4 linked regions of the Homo sapiens genome follow. The protein of the gene in region 1 purifies or fractionates together with the protein of each later gene. This does not show direct contact. Each region holds a gene or a part of one and is shown on either strand. Other genes may lie near its edges.

Region 1 (4,667 bases):
AAAGGTGATAGGTTTTTAAAAAATACTAGTAGCATTACTCCCTTCTTTTCCTATTTAGCTTAACTTTCTTAACAGCCAATATAATATTCTGCAGATTATTACTGTTCTAAAACTAAAATGAGCTGAAATCCTGAGATCATTCTGGATCTTCAGTTATTCTGGATAAACTGGAGCTTCACAAAGGTGAAAATTTAGAGTCTTAAGCACCAAAACTTTATAATAACCAATCTAGATAAAAATGTATTTTTAAAAGTGGTATACTCATTTAATATTTTCCTTAATTGTTATCAAAATAATATTGCAATGTAACTTCCCTTCAAGGTTCCTACTGCCAAGAACAGCTACTTATACTTTATTCTAAACAGTACCAAGCCCTTCTCTGCTTTTTAGTTTTTATTCTTGCTTTTGATCTTAATAGCTTTTTCCTTTCCCTTCTTTGTATTAATAAGGTCATTTCTCAGTGCTTCCATAATGCCTTACTGTAGCAGCATTCCCTCCCTTTTCATAGTTGTCCTCTATTAACTTCAAATAAAACAATCATAAATATCATTAGAATCCTATGTAATATTAGGAATAAAAGACTTTAAGGAAAAACAAAAGGACTGTATGCAATATAATGATAGGCTTCAAGTATCTATTCCTCAAACACACGCACCTATTGAGACTTTTTCTGCTTAATTCTTGTGTTCTAAACAGTCAGGATCACTGTAATATTAAAAGAAACTAAGACCAGTAACAAAACATATTTAAATGTGTGGCTATCACATTTCCCATTATGTACTATGTATGCTAAAACTAGATAGGAAAATAGGATAGTATTCAGTCTTAAAAGTTCAGCAAATTCTGGCACAAGCTATAACATAGACAGATGAACCTCAATGACATTATGCTAAGTGAAATAAGCCAGTCACAAAAAGACAAATACCATAGGATTCCACTTATATGATGGTGATAGCTGCAAAACAATGTAACTATAATGTTATTGAACTGTACACTTAAAATGATTAAACTGGAAGTTTGTTATATTTTACCACAGTTGAATAAAAAAACCTAGATGATACAAGGTTTCCTCACGATTCTGCTTGTTTTTAAACTTAACATATAATGACTTAAGTTCTTAAGTATAGCAAAATCAACATGGTTCTTAATGAATTAAAAAATGTTCAACACTTGTAAACTATTTAGCTGCTTGCTCCCAGTACAAAAGCATGTGGTAATTAGAATTTATTTCTTCGACTCTATTTTCTATTACTATTAACTATTTTGTGACTTTGAGAAAAAACCCACATTTAATCCACTTTTGGCCTTTGATGAAGTGGTTTCAATTAGTGATTTAAACTCATTTTCAGTGCTACAAGTAACACTGTTCTTTCTCAGATTATGACAATCCAATCCTAAAAATGAATGTCATGAGTACCACTTCTCCATTTGTCTCTTAATTCTACACTGCATTATATATCTTTAAATAAACAAGTATATAAATAGTCTCTTAAAAAAATCCATGTTCATTCTCTGCTTTAAAAAAAATTTAATTTTATAAATTGTTCCAAATACATTCCAGCCTACTAAATCACAAAAAAGTATCTGTTTAAAACTTCCAGGCTGGGCGCGGTGGCTCACGCCTGTAATCCCAGCACTTTGGGAGGCCGAGGCGGGCGGATCACGAGGTCAGGAAATCGAGACCATCCTGGCTAACACGGTGAAACCCTGTCTCTACTAAAAATACAAAAAAATTAGCCGGGCGTGGTGGCATGCGCCTGTAGTCCCAGCTACTAGGGAGGCTGAGGCAGGAGAATGGCATGAACCCGGGAGACAGAGCTTGTAGTGAGCCAAGACAGCGTCACTGCGCTCCAGCCTGGGCAACAGAGCGAGACTCCGTCTCAAAAAAAAAAAAACAAAACAAAAACAAAAAAAACTTCCTCATAAAAATCATTCCATCATTTCTTTAGTTATCTTTTCCCTTTTTTTAGTTTCTAAAAACATATTCTTTCACTAAGAACTATCACTGTAATAATAAGCTTTCATGCCTTTTCTGTCTTGAGGAATCTGTTAGGACTAGTACGTAATTTAGCAGGTCTATTTAAGGCAAGCTTACAAAAACTACAGAATAAACATTTATTCCACTTATAAAGACATTTTAAAAGAATTATATAATGATTTCACTACTGTAGCAAAAATAATTTTAACATGACATTTTATTTTTCAATTGTTTTAATTTACATAAAATTTTATTAAAACTATATTATAGTTTAATGTGTAATTAATGTAAAACATTAATAACTTTATGTTTCACTTAAGGTAAATTCTTAAAAACCTTTCATAGTAGTTAAGTGTACACCACTATGGATGTGTATAAACTGTGTCCATTGTGTGGACTTGTGATCATCATTTTTAAAAAGACCTACATGCATAAAGATATACAGAATGAGGTTGAAACTTACTTTGGTCACCATAACCACCACAAAGTTTTTCTCATCAATTTTATATTCTTTGAGAGCAGTATCATCATTGAGGATTTTGCCTAATACATTAAGAGAAAAAAAAATCATTTAAGGCATAATCTTTCTCTTACACTTCAGTTAAAACAACTTTCTACTCGAAATATGAATATTTCAGAAATATTAAAATATGAATCACCAACATAAATTCTATCAGTTAATACTTTTCCCAAAGAAAAACCAATCAATCAAGATAAAAATAAAACAACTCCTAAGTGGCAGGGCATGGTGGCTCACACCTGTAATCCCAACACTTTGGTAGGCTGAGGAGGAAATATAGCTTGAGGCCAGGAGTTTGAAACCAGCATGGCCAACATAGCAAGACCCTGTTTATGAAAAAAAAAAATTCAAAATTAGCCAGGCATTGTGGCACATGCCTATGGTCCTAGCTACTTGGGAGGCTGAGGCAGGAGGATCACCTGAGCTCAGGAGTTCAAGGATACAGCGAGTATAATCACACCACTGCACTCCAGCTTGGGTGACAGAGCAAGACCCTCTCTCAAACAAATAAAACTAAAAAGCATAAGCATTTGACTAAAAGATGTCAAACTTATATAGTGTATATAGAATGACAATCAATTTTTACAAATGTATTGATTATATAAAAGACTTACTGGGCAAGGAAATATGAAAGAGGCCCTGAAAAGGAGGAGATCATGAAGATAAAGAAAATTCAATACTCCGATTGCACAGGGGTCCTCTGGAAAATAACCTATATTCTTTTATGATATGAAGAAAGGGAGAGAAACAAATTTCCTGCTCCCCAAAATACTGATATCTGATAAATCAGAAATGTTCTAACACTATCAAAGCAAGATACTAAAAGTACTTCAGAAAACGACATGATACACAAGAAAGGGCAAGATGCTACAGAACTTAGAAATGCACGAAGTACACAAAACTGTGGTCGTGCTGAAGGTCACTATTAGGTAGCTAGGACTCTCTAGTGTTTCTTGCTACATGAATTTAGTTTTCCACCTTTAAAAAGCTATTGAATCAAAAGCTGCTAACATTAAGTCAGAAAGGAATATGGATAGGAATGAGAAAACAGGCCAAAACAAGAAACTGGAAATTTGAATTTTATGTCCGCTTCTTTAGGCTTCTGAATTCTGACCTATAAAAATAATGGGACTGAATCACCAGGTTAGCATTTCCTCCAGGCTGTCTCACTTTAGGAAACACTATTCAGAAAAAGAGAAGAATCCATGGGTGATCAAACACCCACCTTACTAACATCTACAATGAAAGCATTTTCTCTAAAAATTTGGATATCAAATGTATTTTTAATATACATTTTCCTGGTTATTAGTGAGGCTAGTCAAATGTATAATTCCTACTCTTATCCTTTGTTGCTTTATTGGTCATCCTTTCCTTACTGATTTCTAAGAATTCTTTACATAATCTGAATATTAATTTTTTTTCTTCCTGTAGGTGTCTGTGTGATGTGTTTTTTCTGTACTCTTCAGTTAGTTTTGGTTAAAATAATTTTACAGGAATGATTCCAAGCATACTAATAATAACACAATCAGTATAAATGGTTTCAATTCAATTTAAAAAAAAAAGCTCCGTTTGATTAAAAAAACAAAAGCCAGTTACACGATGCTTACAAAAGATAAAACAAAACTAATACCATTTGATGGAAAAATACACAGGGCAAATGTGAATAAAGAGAAGATTGAATATTAATATTAGATTCAAATGACTGCTCTTTCACTGCTTTTATTTGTACAATCATTTTTCTGACAATTTGAATATACTACAATATATAAGATAACATTTCTAAAACTAAAAGAATATCAAGACATGGCATGTTAATTTTAATATTTAATTCATACCTGCATAAATTAATTTTTGACCTGCTACTGGAAAGGCATCTTTCCCCTTTTCAGATTCAATCTTCTCTTTCAGTGCTTTCACCTATAGGAAAAATAAAGATTTGTTTTGGAAAAAGTCTAAATAAAAAATGACAATCCAGAATCTGAATAAATAATGGAAGACAAAAATTATATACATAATTATTAATGTTTCCAAAACCTCAAATATTATGTTTTTCCAATTTATATCAAAAAAGATTCAACATTAACTCATATTACTAGTTATGATAGCCATAAACTTTAACACCATCTGATACACACAGATTTTTAAAAATTTACTAGTTGAACTGATAAT
Region 2 (4,667 bases), on another chromosome or scaffold:
CTCGGCTCACTCCGCCTCCTGGGTTCAAGTGATTCTCCTGACTCTGCCTCCCAATTAGCTGGGATTACAGGCACCCACGACCACACATAGCAAATTTTTTATTTTTAGTAGAGATTAATATAAAAAAGGGGCTTATAAAAATTCTCTTCCTTTTATTTGGAAGACGTAAGTATCAATTCTTTAATTGTGAGACCAGAACAGCAAGCGTTTTAAAAGTCCACATAAACACAGTGTTACACAAATGTTTGGTACGACCTTATATGTGATGATGTAGTGCTAATTATTCTGTTGTTTGAAATGGCCAGTGGTCACTGAGTCTCAGAGGATATATTTGTTGACTAGCATGAGAAAAAAGCCTGTCCCTTAGGAAGCCTGCTAGCATTTAGAATATGAATTTTCTAAAAATCAGAAGTAGTACAGAGAGGTAGAAATTATATCATAGCTGAACTTCCTAAATCAAGCTAACCTACCGCCCCATTATAGGACCTTTGGTTTCTCTATTTTAGGACCAGTGGGGCCCCAAATACAGTTTTGACTCTGGTTCTTCCACTCATAGGGTAGGAAAACCACCCACTTTTCCATCCCCGAGCCAGGCTCTCCCTACTTGCCCACCAGGGAACGCTGACCATGGCCTCAGCTTGAAGATTAAAGATGCATGTTTCACTATTTCAGTAGGTGTGCAATACACCCCAGCTATGCTGCTTCATTGTTGCACTTCAGTTATATGGGCAGGAAATGAGGTATTAATTCCACAGTACACACAAGGATAGAAAGACTTGGGCTTCATAGAATTTCTTGTAGCTGTATTGCTCTGGTATCACCAGGCATTCAGGTGATGATAAAAAGTGAGATGTGCCGGGTGTGGTGGTGGGCGCCTGTAATCCCAGCTACTTGGAAGGCTAAGGCAGGAGAATTGCTTGAACCAGGGAGGCGGAGGTTGCAGTGAGCTGAGATCACACCACTGCACTCCTGCCTGGGCAACAGAGCCAGACTCCGTCTCAAAAAAAAAAAAGTGAGATTTTTTTCTTTTCTTTTTTTTTTTTTTTTGAGATTTTTTTCTAATGAAGAAACTCAGTTTTAGTGATATCCTTAGAAAGTGCCATCTCATGGCAATGTGTACAATTCTACTACTTTCTTGCTCAGAATGGTCAGATATTTTTGAGATCTGAAGTATATGCTAGTCCAAGTACAAATAATTGTCACACAGTTACACCAACCTAGAATACTTGACAATCTCGATTCTTTACCTGGCAATCTCACATTTGTTAACATCAAGTCCCCTCTTGGGCATGTAACCCATCCCTCTCTGAGGCTCCTTGCTGCTGAATGTGTTGAGGTAGTGGACGTACGGGGATTCATCCGTGATCTCAAAATAGCGAATACTGCTGTCACCCTGTAAGAAACCAGAGACAAGTCTGTGTCTGATTGTTAACTGAAACATCTGGATTATGGGGGTGTCTCTCTCCTCTACAAACCCAGCAGTAGTTGGGACCCCGCTTCAGTAGCTGACCTTTTCTTCCTCATAAAGAGGCTTGCCTAAAGCATATAAAAGTTTCTTTTCCTCACAAAGTAACCCCTTACTTATCAAATGCTAGCATGCCTTTTAAGTGGTCTCCTCAGCCTCCTGGCTCCTGGCTCTAATTTTACTCCCCTGAGCCTAGGCACCAGGCCAGGGTTAGGGCAAAAATGTTAATGCCTCTGCCAAACAGCTACATTGCAATTCAACTGTGAAAAACAAACAAACAAACAAAGACTAAGAGGACTGCTGAGAATGCAATTATTGATTTAAGTATTCATTTACTGGCATAACGCAATGCTGTTATGCCAGTATGATGATAAAAAGTGAGATTTTTCTAATGAAGAAACTCAGTTTTAGTGAGTATCCTCAGAAAGTGCCATCTCATGGCAATGTGTACAATTCTACTACTTTCTTGCTTAGAATAGTCAGATATCTTTGAGTACTGAAGCATATGTTAGTCTAAGTACAAATAATTGTCACACAGTTACACCAACCTGAACAATGACGGCAATCTTGTCTGGCAGAGAGGAGATATACATATATGTAAGAAAGAAGAAGGCAAAAATAGCTAGGTGGTATCATGCCTCAACAGTGCTCCCAGTTCTCATGATTTCCATTTGTCTCAATGACTGAGATATCTAAAGCAATGGAAAAGAAGCTAAACCCTTACTAGTCATTTCTGCATGCCCAAAAGAATTTTCCATCTCATGTTACTAATATCTGAGTAACTGCTCATTTTGTTTGTTTTAATTCAGTCAAGGGCAACAACAGCAAGGTAAATGCACTTAACACCTGTTAACATCTGCAGTAAAATGGCTTTCAAGGAAACAGACAAGATCTCCATTTCTAAAACAATGACCTATAAAAATGTAAAGCAGGTCTGCAGCATGCTCAATCAGCTATGAAAAGCAAACACCAGCTTTACCACCCAGTGAAGGGCTATCTAACAGGTCTAGGGACTACCTCAACAGCTCCACTGTTATTAATTCATTTATTTCAACTACAAAAAGTTCTAAGGGAAATTGAGCCTACAAGAAAAAAAAGGGAACTATAAGGTTCCCACTTACAAAAATGAAATAATAAAGCTACCCACAGTCTAGGTATGCTGAGCTCATAAGGCAGGAGGAAGGTTTTTGGAGTTCAGTGTGGAGTCTCCCTATAACTGTTATCACCCCTGAGCTTTAGTCAGGCCTCATATCTTCAAGCCCAGAGCCCTAGCACTGAACCCCAGGAACAAGAACCCTCTGGAGAGTCTCTGAGGCCCTCAAAAGTTTGCATCCACAAAGCACCATTCTCCTTCCAAGTCCATGGTGTGTGGTACTAAGTATACACATGCTCATCTAGGGTTATCCAACAAATTTCAGCATTAGATGTGGCCAACTGGTTGCCCATCCCTGACATAAGTACAGATAAATCTAAAATCACCAATCAGGTAGCACTGCTAGGTGAAGATGAAACACCAGTGTATCTTCTTTTTTTCACAAGAGCGCCCTGATTGGAGCATTTTCCCCAATACCCCAGCCCAACCTCTGCTTCAGTCAAAAGTATGCAACATGGCGTGTTATCACTGCACAACTGGCAAGCTGCACACAGTCCAGTCTCAAGACCTAAAAATACCAAATTATCTGTCCTTGGCTTATAACATACACACACAAATTAGAAAAATTAAACAGATACAACACATTGCCCGTCCTCTAAATCTCTGAAGGATAAATGTTTCCACTTACAGGATTTAACACCAAACATCAAAATTACTGTTTACCTTTCCACATAAGTAAATGATGCTGGTGTCAGGGTCATAGAAAGGCAGCAACACCCCATTGCTAGTGTCCATCTCATGAAGAGCAATTGGTTCCTGCATATTTTTCTGGGGGGAAGATAATAATAATACATATATGTGTATGTATACATTTTTTTAAAAATAAATTTTTATAACCTTATTATATATTCTTCTATCCCAATTAAGCGAGCCATTTTCCTAGAATAACAGAAGTTTGAACTATGCACATACAATACTCATACATGGAAACAGCAACAGGGATGCTAAATGAGATCCAACTCACAAAATTTCACTGATTTGACAACATAATGCGCGCATACATCAGCGTGATTTCATGACAATGATGAGAAAGCCCTTCTCCTTTGTTACTGTTTTCTTTTTCTTTTTTTTTTTTTTAAAGACTGAGTCTCCCTCTGTCGCCCAGGCTGGAGTGCAGTAGTGCTATCTCGGCTCACTGCAATCTCCGCCTCCCAAGTTCAAGCGATTTTCCTGCCTCAGCCTGGCAAGAGCTGGGATTATAGATAGGCACATGCCACCACCCGTGGCTAATTTTTGTATTTTTAGTAGACACAGAGTTTCACCATGTTGGCCAGGCTGGTCTCCAACTCCCAGCCTCAAGTGATCCAGCCACCTCAGCCTCCCAAAGTGCTGGGATTACAGGAATGGCCACTGCGCCTACCCTATTTTATTTTTTTAAAGTACTTCTTTAATTATAAAATATGTGTGCTTTTAAAAAGTTGAAAGATATAAAAAAGAACATAAAAATCATTCCATCAAAATCCTACAGCCCAGTGGGTGACAGAAGCTATTATCATTTTGATCTATTTCCTTCCGACACATGTACACAGAGATTGAGATGATAGAATGTATGTTGTATTTTTCCCCACTTAAGCTAATTATGAACATTTTCCCAAGCATGACTATTTTGATTTAGACAACTGATCATATTATTTATGAAATATGAACTTATTTTCCAAATCCAAAACACTAGATTCTTCATTCTTTTTAAAAAATATAGTCCCCTCCCTCTCCCCTTCCCCCTCCCCCTCCCCCTCTCCCTCTCCCCACGGTCTCCCTCTCCCTCTCTTTCCACGCTCTCCCTCTGATGCCGAGCCGAAGCTGGACGCTGCCATCTCGACTCACTGCAACCTCCCTGCCTGATTCTCCTGCCTCAGCCTGCTGAGTGCCTGCGATTGCAAGCGCGCACCGCCACGCCTGACTGGTTTTCGTATTTTTTTGGTGGAGACGGGGTTTCGCTGTGTTGGCGGGGCTGGTCTCCAGCTCCTGACCACGAGTAATCCGCCAGCCTCGGCCTCCCGAGGTGCCGGGATTGCAAACGGAGTCTCGTTCACTCAGTGCTCAATGTTG
Region 3 (4,667 bases), on another chromosome or scaffold:
GCGGATCACCTGAGGTCGGGAGTTCGAGACCAGCCTGACCAACATGGAGAAACCCCGTCTCTGCTGAAAATACAAAATTAGCTGGGTGTAGTAGTTCATGCCTGTAATCCCAGCTACTCGGGAGGCAGAGGCAGGAGAATCACTTGAACCTGGGAGGCAGAGGTTGCAGTGAGCTGAGATCATGCCATTGCACTCCAGCCTGGGCAACAAGAGTGAAACTCCATCTCAAAAAAAAAAGAAAAAGAAATGTGGTAAATACACACATTGGAATACTATTCAGCCTTAAAAAAGGAAACTCTGTCATTTGTGACAATATGGATGAATCTAGAGGATGTTATACTAAGTGAAATAAGCCAGACACAGAAAGACAGTTACCACATAATCTCATTTTCATGTGGAATCTTAAAAAATTGAACTCGTAGAAACCAAGAGTAGAATGGTGGTTACCAGAAGTTGTGGTGGTGTATGGGGATAGGGGAGATGTTGGTCAAAGGATATAAAGTTCACTTAGACAGGAGGAATAAGTTCTAGGTGACATATTGCATAGCATGGTGACTATAATTAATAATGTATTAGCTATTTCAAAATTGCTAAAAGTAGATTTTAAATGTTCTAACCACAAAGTAATGCTAAGCATGTGAGGTGATGGATATGTTGATTTGCCTGATTTAATCATTCTTCAATATATACATGTATCATAATTTAACCCATAAATATACAATTTATTTGTCAATTTAAAATAGATTTTAAAAATTATAACATTTTGATTAAAATTTTAATGTTGACAGCAGAAGTACTTTGGAATTTTTTTTTTTTTTTTTTTTTTGAGACAGAGTCTTGCTCTGTCACCCAGGCTGGAGTGCAGTGGCGAGATTATAAGCTCACTGCAACCCCCACCTCCCGGATTCAAGCGATTCTCCTGCCTCAGCCTCCCCAGTAGGTGGGACTACAGGCATGTGCCACCACGCTCAGCTAATTTTTTGTATTTTTAGTAGAGACGGGGTTTCACTGTGTTTCGATCTCCTGACCCTGTGATCTGCCCGCCTCAGCCTCCCAAAGTGCTGGGATTACAGGTGTGAGCCACCACACCTGGCCAAGTACTTTGGAATTTTAAATGAAAATTCTATTTAGGATTTAGCTTTCATTTTGGAAAATTTACTTGCCAAACGATTATATTCTTAAAAGGATTTTAAAAATTTGTTTCACATAGGCCGGGTGCGGTGGCTCCTGCCTGTAATCCCAGCACTTTGGGAGGCTGAAGTGGCAGGATCACCTGAGCCCAAGAGTTCAAGACCAGCCTGCGCAACACAGAGAGACCCCGTCTCTGAAAAACAAACAGACAAACAAAAAACTTAGCTGTGCGTGATGGCACATGCCTGTCATCCCAGCTACTTGGGAGGCTGAGGTGGGAAAATCGCTTAGGTCTGGGAGGTCAAGGTTGCAGTGAGCTGTGATCTCGCCACACTCCAGCCTAGGTGACAGAGTGATTGCCTGTCTCAAAACAAATTTTTTTCTACCTTACCATCTAATTAAGACTTCTTTTGTCATTCTTAGGTACGGGAAAAACACTCTTGGCACGAGCCGTTGCTAGCCAGCTGGACTGCAATTTCTTAAAGGTAAAGGGAAGATTATTTTGTACTTATTGAAATTTAATTTTACTTGAATTATCTTATATTTACCTTACTGTTTTTCCTTTAATCAGGTTGTATCTAGTTCTATTGTAGACAAGTACATTGGTGAAAGTGCTCGTTTGATCAGAGAAATGTTTAATTATGCTAGAGATCATCAACCATGCATCATTTTTATGGATGAAATAGATGCTATTGGTAAGAATAACACCCTTGTTGAAAGTTTTAGGACTTTTTTTTAAATGTAAAAGAACCTTTTTCCCTCTCTTAATCTGTAATTGTGACTTGTATGAAGTAGATACCACAATGAATCAGATGTTAGTTTAACCAATTTTAATAAATAACCTTTCATGGCCGGGTGTGGTGGCTCATGCCTGTAATCCCAGCACTTTGAGAGGCCAAGGTGGGCAGATCACCAGGTCAGGAGATCGAGACCATCTGGCCAACATGGTGAAACCCTGTCTCTACTAAAAATACAAAAATTAGCTGGATGTGGTGGCACATGCCTGTAATCCCAGCTACTGAGGAGGCTGAGGCACGAGAATCGCTTGAACCCAGGAGACGTAGGTTGCAGTGAGCCGAGATCACACCACTGCACTCCAGCCTGGCGACAGAGCGAGACTCCGTCTCAATAAATAACCTTTCACTTTAACAAAATGAGAAATGTTACACCAAAATCAAGTCTAACTTTGTCAGCATAATTCTTGCTCTTTAATTTTCATCTTAATGTTTTAAGCCACAGACTGTTATGTTCTGTTTTCTTAAATGATGGTTGTAGAGGAAAAGAGTAATGCATATAAATTTCCAAATCTACTATCTTAGGTGGTCGTCGGTTTTCTGAGGGTACTTCAGCTGACAGAGAGATTCAGAGAACGTTAATGGAGGTAATATTTGGTAAAGGGGGTTTATAAAGAAACCAATGTTTATTAAATGAAGAACTGAACATTGCATATTTGATAGTCAAAATATATAGAACATTTTAAATGAAATATGAAATTTGAAAATATTGTCAGGAACAAACATGTTTCTCTATCACAAACTCTAAGAAAATGACTACTGGAAAATAAGGCTATCTGCCAAATTCCATTTGGTATACACCTGTACTATTCTGTGTTTTTTTGAGTAGATCAGTCATTCATATATTTAAATTCTTATGAATGTGATCTTGCGGTAGTTTTATGAAGACATTTTTTGTAATGGTCATATTAAGACTGTTGGCAATAAATGAGCTATAATTATGTATGAAGCTGCTCTAAAAATTATTTTTTTCTCTCACTTTATTGCTGAGACTGAGGCAACTAAAATAGTTTTGATAATTGAAGAGGATAGATGACAGAATGAAAGAATGCACATAAAGCCTTCCTCCAGTTTTACCTTTCCCCACTCCAAATTCTGTGAAAGTGATATCAAGAGTCCAAATACATTTTCCACTTCAAATAGAAACTAGGTAGCATGGGTAATGCAGTGTCAAATTCTTTCTCCTTAGAAGTATTTGAAAAATCTTTTTTCATAAATTATACAGATCCGCTCAGAAGATAACATAGCATTTGGAAATTATAAAATCTCTTAGAAACCTTAAATTGAGATATTTTTAAATAACACAAATACTCATTTTATTCAAGTAACTAATATATCATCAACTAACACATTGTCAGACTAGCTATATTTTAGAGAGTTTGTTAAATGCAGTAAGGTTTTTCATTTATTCAAGAAAACTTTAGAAATTGAGGACAATATTTTTTATGTCTTTTAGTATTTCTGTGTACAGTAGAATTATTTGAAAAAATAGGCCAGGCATGGTGGCTTCTGCCTGTAATCCCAGCACTTTGGGAGGCCCAGCTGGGCAGATCATGAGGTCTGAGCATTGAGACCAGCCTGACCAACGTAGCGAAACACCATCTCTAGTAAAGATACAAAAATTAGCTGGGCGTGGTGGCGTGTGCCTGTAATCCCAGTTACTCAGGAGGCTGAGGCAGGAGAATTGCTTGAACCCAGGAGGTGAGGTTGCAGTGGGCTGAGATCGCCCCATTGCACTCCAGCCTGGGTGACAGAGCGAGAGTCTGTCTCCAAAAAAAAAAAAAAAAAAAAAAGCAGTCCCAGCTACTCAGGAGGTTGAGGTGGGAGGACTGGTCGAGCCCAGGAGGTGAAGGTTGCAGTGAGCGATGATCAGGCCACAGTACTCCAGCCTGGGTGACAGAGTGAAACTCTGTCTCAAAAAAAAAAAAAAAAAAAAAAAAAAAAAATTATCAGTTTATTATCAAATTTGTAGAAAAATCTTTGTATCCATTTATCCTAATATAAATGTTATGTCTGACATATCATAAGCACTTTATATATTGGATTTTATTATTAGCTTTTCCTTTAAAAAATAATTGATGAAATTTTGGACATTGGAAATTAGATCCACATAGTTTAATTTCATAATTCTTGACATGATGGAAGCCTTCAGATTTATTAAAACTACCTGGTAGCTATAGAAAGATACATAGCTATTAAAAGGTACATAATCTAGCTTAGAACTTTGAGGCTAGAAAGTATATCCCTTTATATAAGAGAGAGAAAAAGAATTCTATCAAATGACCATTCTGAAGATAGAACATATCTATCTGTAGACAATACATTTCATGGCATTAGACATATAAAAGGTGTGTGCTATTTTTTTTAATGGTTAGAATTTTTGTAAAATCTGATTCTTAATATTCTTAGTTACTGAATCAAATGGATGGATTTGATACTCTGCATAGAGTTAAAATGATCATGGCTACAAACAGACCAGATACACTGGATCCTGCTTTGCTGCGTCCAGGAAGATTAGATAGAAAAATACGTGAGTTAAGATTCTTTACCTACTGTCCATTTCCCTTTGTGCCCATTTCTTTTTCCATACTTCACTTCACCTTCCACTGTATTTTAAAAAAGATAAAACTGGACTATAAAATAATTTTTTATTTTCAGATATTGATTTGCCAAATGAACAAGCAAGATTAGACATACTGAAAATCCATGCAGGTCCCATTACAAAGCATGGTGAAATAGGTA
Region 4 (5,435 bases), on another chromosome or scaffold:
TTAAAATATATATATATATTATGGAAAAAAGTAAAGCAGTCTGGGCGCAGTGGTCATGCCTGTAATCCCTTCACTTTGGGAGGCCAAGGTGGGTAGATCACTTGAGGTCAGGAGTTCAAGACTAGCCTGGTCAACATAGTGAGACTCTGTCTCTACTAAAAATACAAAAATTAGCTGGGCATCATGGCGCTCCCCTATAATCCCAGCTACTCAGGAGGCTGAGGCAGGAGAATTGCTTGAACCTAGGAGGTGGAGTTTGCAGTGAGCCAAGATCGCACCACTGCACTCCAGCCTGAGGGACAGAGTGAGACTCCATCTCAAAAATTAAAAAAAAAATAAAGCAGTCTATAGGAGTAGGGTAAAGGAGGGAAGGAGATTATGGAGGAGGGTGACACTTTTAAAGACAGAGAAGGTGATTGTTTGAGCAAAGGACAAGAGTCTAATGTGGCAAGGCCCTGAAGTGGGCCTTCCAGAGCCCAAAGCTGGTCTGGTGGCTAGGTAGATCCTGTTGCAGACATAGTGACTTTGTTTTAGTCCAAGCGAAATGATCTCTCACCCTTTTTCTCCCCACCAAGACGGAATCTCGTTCTATCGCCCAGGCTGGAGTGCTGTGGCGTGATCTTGGCTCACTGCAATCTCCGCCTTCTGGGTTCAAGCTATTCTGCCTCAGCCGCCTGAGTAGCTGGGACTACAGGCACCCACCACCATGCCCGGCTAATTTTTGTATTTTTAGTAGATATGGGGTTTCACCATGTTGGCCAGGCTGGTCAGGAGACCTCAAGTGATCTGTCCACCTTGGCCTCCCAAAGTGCTGGGATTACAGGTGTGAACCACCGCACCTAGCCTCACCTTTTTTTTTTTTTTTTTTGAGAGTTTCGCTTTTGTTGCCTAGGCTGGAGTGCACTGGCGCGATCTCGGCTCACCGCAACCTCCATCTCCCAGGTTCAAGCGATTCTCCTGCCTCAGCTTCCTGAGTAGCTGAGATTACAGGCATGCGTCACCACGCCCAGCTAATTTTGTATTTTTAGTAGAGATGGGGTTTCGCCATGTTGGTCAGGCTGGACTCGAACTCCCGACCTCAGGTGATTCGCCTGCCTCGGCCTCCCAAAGTGCCTGGCCACACCTTTTAAAACACTGACTCTAGTTGACGTGTTGGCCACAGACAGTAGGGAGGAAGCAGTATAATTTGAGAAGCTACTGCGGTAATCCCAGCAGAGATGATGGTGGCTGAGGCCAGGGTTAGGTTGTGATTGATTCAGGATGTTTCTTAAGGATAGGATGTAGGACATGAAAGAAACTGAGGATGACTGGGTTTGGCCTTGAGCAACTGGGTGATCAGGGTGGAGCAGTTCAGGGAGCCATCACAAGAGACAGAAAACGCGGTAGTCATCTGGTGTCTAAATGGCATTTAAGCCTTGAGGGTGGGTGAGAGGAAGGAAGGGTAGATAGAGCAGAGGTTGAAGGACTGAGCCCTGGGGCATGCCATATGAGGCTGCCGGCAGACAGAGGTGCACAGCTAGTGAGAAAAAAACAAGGCCTTTTTGTAGTTCTGAAGCCTCAAGGAAGTGTTTCAATGGTGCTTGATCATATCAATTTCAAATAGGCTGTTTTCATCCCCAACTTCTGCTCAGCCAATAACTCAAACTGATAAATGCCCTCTGCTATCTTGGATTTTCCAAATTCTGTTTTGGGGTTTTGGAATAAACACTGGTCCAAATCCTCGCTTCATCATTTAGCAGTTAAAACCCGTTAAATAGGATAATAATACCTCCCCCTAGGAGATTTTGTGCTGGTTAATGAGATAATGATGTATAAACGGAGCACACAGCCAGGCACTTAGGAAGTGGACCACAATTGCCAGCCATTATCATTCAAGGCTCAGCAGTGACCTCCTGCGAAGAGGTTGGGGCTTCTCGGTCACTCCAGAAACCAGTCACACCTTTCTGTGAGGTCTCAAGGCTTAGTATTTAATCTCTAATTGCTTACACTTGTCGCCTTGAAGGACTGGAAGATACATCTTTAATAGTCCTCAGCAGGGCTGGATGCCTTCAATCCCGCAGCAGCTCTATATTTGCAAATGGCCTGGAGAAATCTCTCACCATTTTTCTTGTTTACAACTTTGGAACTGAGGCTGAAGTCAATCAAAATCCAGCTTTCTACAAGGGGTGCCAGGGTGTGCACCTTAACACAGTGGCCAGTCATTGGCCTGAGGCAGAGATCCGGGGAAGACAAGCCCTATACTTGACTGGAGGTAAACCCAGCTCACAACGCGCACACACACAGCCCAAACAGGAGATCCTATCAGAAACGAGTCACACCCTAGACTTTCAGGAACAATAATCCTGGAATGAGCACTGTTTTTACCCTCAGGCTATGCTTAACCCTAAGGCCAAAATCTTGGGTCTGATAAGGGTCAAATTTTCAAGCAGGACTAAGGGTGGGAAAAGGGGCTCAAACCAACCCCAAGCTGGGTCTGGTGCTGGGCCAGTAATGAGTGACCAGACCCTGGGCAGGCCTAGGAGATGTGAGAGACCCTGACAAGGGCTGGGCCAGAGCAAAGGCCAGCCTGGGCCAGCTTCCGACTCTCCCAGGCTGCTCTGCCCTCACCGGCAGTTGTCTCTTCGAAATCCAGCTTCCACTTCCCACCTGGCCCCTGCCTGCCAGGGCTGCCAGCAGTTGATACACACCCCTCCCTGGCCAGGGCAGCTGACCCTGCCTGCTCCTCTCCTGGGTGCCAGGTCTGGGCAGCTGCAGGTGACCACTTCCCCATCAGGCTGCCCTGTCATGACCACCTCCCCACACCCCAACCCCGTCGAAGCTCACTTGCCTCCTCCGGGTTTTGCTCCAGCTTCTCCTTCTCCAGCTTCACGGCACCAGGGGTGACGGTGCAGGGCTCCGGGGAGGCCCCATCGGAGTTGCTCTCCACCCCGACTCCTGCTTCGCCCTCAGGCTGAGAGGTCTCCAAGCCGCCTTGGGGCACTAGCCCCACTCCAACCTGGGGCCCACAGTACGCCATCCCCCCACAGAACTCATACGGCGGGGGGCATGGGGGAATCCCCCACACCTCAGAGCCTGGCCCAACCCCCGGCCCGATTCCTGGCCCTCCAGGAGGGCCTTGGAAGCTTAGCCAGGTCCGAGGATCAACCCAGCCCGGCTCCGGCCCCCCTGGCCCATCACCTCCACCACCTGGAGGGGGCGAGAAGGCGAAATCCGAAGCCAGGTGTCCCGCCATGGGGAAGGAAGGCGCCCCAAGCCGGGGGCCTGGTGAAATGAGGGCTTGCGAAGGGACTACTCAACCCCTCTCTCCCTCCCCAGTCCCACCCACTAGCCTTGACCTCTGGCCCCGCCCCCTGGATGGGTGGAGGAGAGGGAGGTGGGGGGAGAAACTGAGGCGAAGGATGTTTGCCTAATGGTGGTGGCAATGGTGTCTGTGGAAGGGGAAAACCGGGAGACACAACTGGCGCCCCTCCAGGACCTCAGTGCAGGTCCCCCACAGAAACTTTTTTTATTTTTATTTTTTAAGACAGGGTCTCACTTTGTTGCCCAGACTGGAGTGCAGTGGAGTACAATGATGGCTCAATGTAGCCTCGATCTACTGGGCCAAAGCAATCCTTCTGCTCCAGCCTCCTAAGTGGCTGGGACTACAGGCTTGGACCACTGTGCCCTGTTAGTTTTTTTATTTTTAGTAGAGATGGGGCCTTGCTATGTTACCCAGGCTGGTCTTGAATTCCTGTCCTCAAGAAATCCTCCCGCCTCTGCCGCCCAGTGTCATGATTAAAGGCGTGAGCCACCACACCCAACTTTCAACTCCCAACCCGCTCCCTGGCACTCTCTCAGGCTCTGCACATCCCAGCTGTCTGGAATCACTCCCACACCTCCATGTTCTTCAGGAACCCAGGTGCTTGACCCCCTCTCCACAGACCTCTGGCACTGTGCCTTCAGGGGCCAGTCACCCTCTCAGCTCCTCAAATTTATTGAATGTGTGTGTGGCGCTATCCCTCAATGCATCAACAGCCATAAGCACAATGGCCAGCTGCTCCCTTATGCCTTCCCCCGATCCATCCAGAATCCTAGGCATTCCCATCCCGATACTGGCCAAATCCAGCCACCCCGCAGCCTGGGTGCCTGGCACCATCTGCCCAGCCTGCCAAATTTCACCCCATCTTCAAGAGTAGACTGCCAGACAAGGCCTCCGTGCTATATCCCCCCACCCCCCCATCCCCCCACCCCTCCGTCTTCCAGAATCAGACTCCAGACTCTCCTCATCTAACAGACTAAGGGGTTGGTCCCTACTTCCCCTTCAAGGGACCAGACTTTGGACTGACTGGGCCTCAGTTTCCCAACCTTTGCTGAAACAGAGTGATAAGACACCCGCTTTGGGCCCCCTCCACTATGGAACCTGCACATCAGGTTCCTTGCTCCCCTCTCAACCAAAACTCAGACATCTAATACCACGGTAGGCCCCGTTCTCCCTCCCCCACCTCCCTGGCCCAGGCCTCCAGCCCTAGGCCCTGGGTGGGGAAAACCAGGGGGTGGGGGGTGTGGAGAAAAAATATCTGACTTCAGGTTCAAAGAAGCCTGGGAGGGACTGGGGGAAGGGGGCAGGACAATGGCCTTGGCTGGACAATCCCGGTCCCCAGAGGGGGCAGCTCTAACCCTAAACAAGTGCTCAACCCTTGAATGGGCCTGGATGGCTCCCCTGGGGACTGCTTCCTGCTCCCCAACCCCCCAGTCCCAATCCCCTCACACAGAATCCCCTTCAGAGACGCTAAAAGGAGCTCCAGCAACCCCCCTCTGCAATCCCCTCAAAGACTGAGCCTCAGACGGGCACCAAGGGCCCCCCACAGGGACCTAGGTATCTAGTTCCTCCTTCCTCTGGGGGACTCAGGCGTCCAGCTTCATCGTGCGTCCCTCCCCGAGCCTGGCAGATTGAGGGATGTGCTTTGTTTAGTGGGGCTGGCTGGCAGAAAGACGCAGAGGAGGTGGAGAGTGATTTGTGGAGGCGTGCAGGAAGGCTGCCCTAAGCTCCCCTTCAGGGTCTGTTTTTCTGGGCCTGGCCTGAGTATCCTGAGGCTCATGCTGCTGGTCTAGTGCTTGATTCTGTTTGCAAGAGAATAGCCAACGGAATGCCTGTCTGTGAGGGATGATGTTTGTCTGTCTGCTCCCAAAACTTGATCTCAGTGGAGGGCCTGGGGTAAGTCTGGGGGCTCCAGAGGGGGCTCTGGGCCAGGGCTCCCCACAGCTTCGAAGGCCAGAAGGCCAGGTCTGGACTGGGCACGCTGACCTCTGTCGACTTAAGTAAGGCTTCTCATTGCAGGCTCCAGGCTCAGCCCTGCCTGGGCTTGTCTGCTGGGGTCAGTGGCTCTATCTGCCTTCTAAGGGGATGGGTGTCCCGTGGCCAGCTGTCTTCATCTTGGTGGCATCCGTGAGTCTTT

What was found. Proteins that work in one complex are often made in the same cells at the same time.
Region 2: the proteins of RAD23B (region 1) and CORO1C purify together in Homo sapiens (affinity purification with western blotting; 2 studies listed by BioGRID, with this or other methods). This does not show direct contact.
Region 3: the proteins of RAD23B (region 1) and PSMC6 fractionate together in Homo sapiens (co-fractionation; 4 studies listed by BioGRID and IntAct, with this or other methods). This does not show direct contact.
Region 4: the proteins of RAD23B (region 1) and POU5F1 purify together in Homo sapiens (affinity purification with western blotting; 2 studies listed by BioGRID, with this or other methods). This does not show direct contact.

The regions. Positions count from the first base shown.
Region 1 is NC_000009.12:107,299,889-107,304,555, reverse strand, and holds part of RAD23B (UV excision repair protein RAD23 homolog B), read right to left. Parts: intron 4,416-4,667; coding exon 4,334-4,415; intron 2,522-4,333; coding exon 2,442-2,521; intron 1-2,441. UniProt on the Homo sapiens protein: Multiubiquitin chain receptor involved in modulation of proteasomal degradation. Binds to polyubiquitin chains.
Region 2 is NC_000012.12:108,651,025-108,655,691, forward strand, and holds part of CORO1C (coronin-1C), read right to left. Parts: intron 3,387-4,667; coding exon 3,282-3,386; intron 1,394-3,281; coding exon 1,248-1,393; intron 1-1,247. UniProt on the Homo sapiens protein: Plays a role in directed cell migration by regulating the activation and subcellular location of RAC1. Increases the presence of activated RAC1 at the leading edge of migrating cells.
Region 3 is NC_000014.9:52,716,527-52,721,193, forward strand, and holds part of PSMC6 (26S proteasome regulatory subunit 10B), read left to right. Parts: intron 1-1,554; coding exon 1,555-1,616; intron 1,617-1,702; coding exon 1,703-1,826; intron 1,827-2,450; coding exon 2,451-2,512; intron 2,513-4,334; coding exon 4,335-4,455; intron 4,456-4,583; coding exon 4,584-4,664; intron 4,665-4,667. UniProt on the Homo sapiens protein: Component of the 26S proteasome, a multiprotein complex involved in the ATP-dependent degradation of ubiquitinated proteins.
Region 4 is NC_000006.12:31,167,389-31,172,823, forward strand, and holds the start of POU5F1 (POU domain, class 5, transcription factor 1), read right to left. Parts: upstream 3,295-5,435; 5' UTR 3,233-3,294; coding exon 2,828-3,232; intron 1-2,827. UniProt on the Homo sapiens protein: Transcription factor that binds to the octamer motif (5'-ATTTGCAT-3'). Forms a trimeric complex with SOX2 or SOX15 on DNA and controls the expression of a number of genes involved in embryonic development such as YES1, FGF4, UTF1 and ZFP206.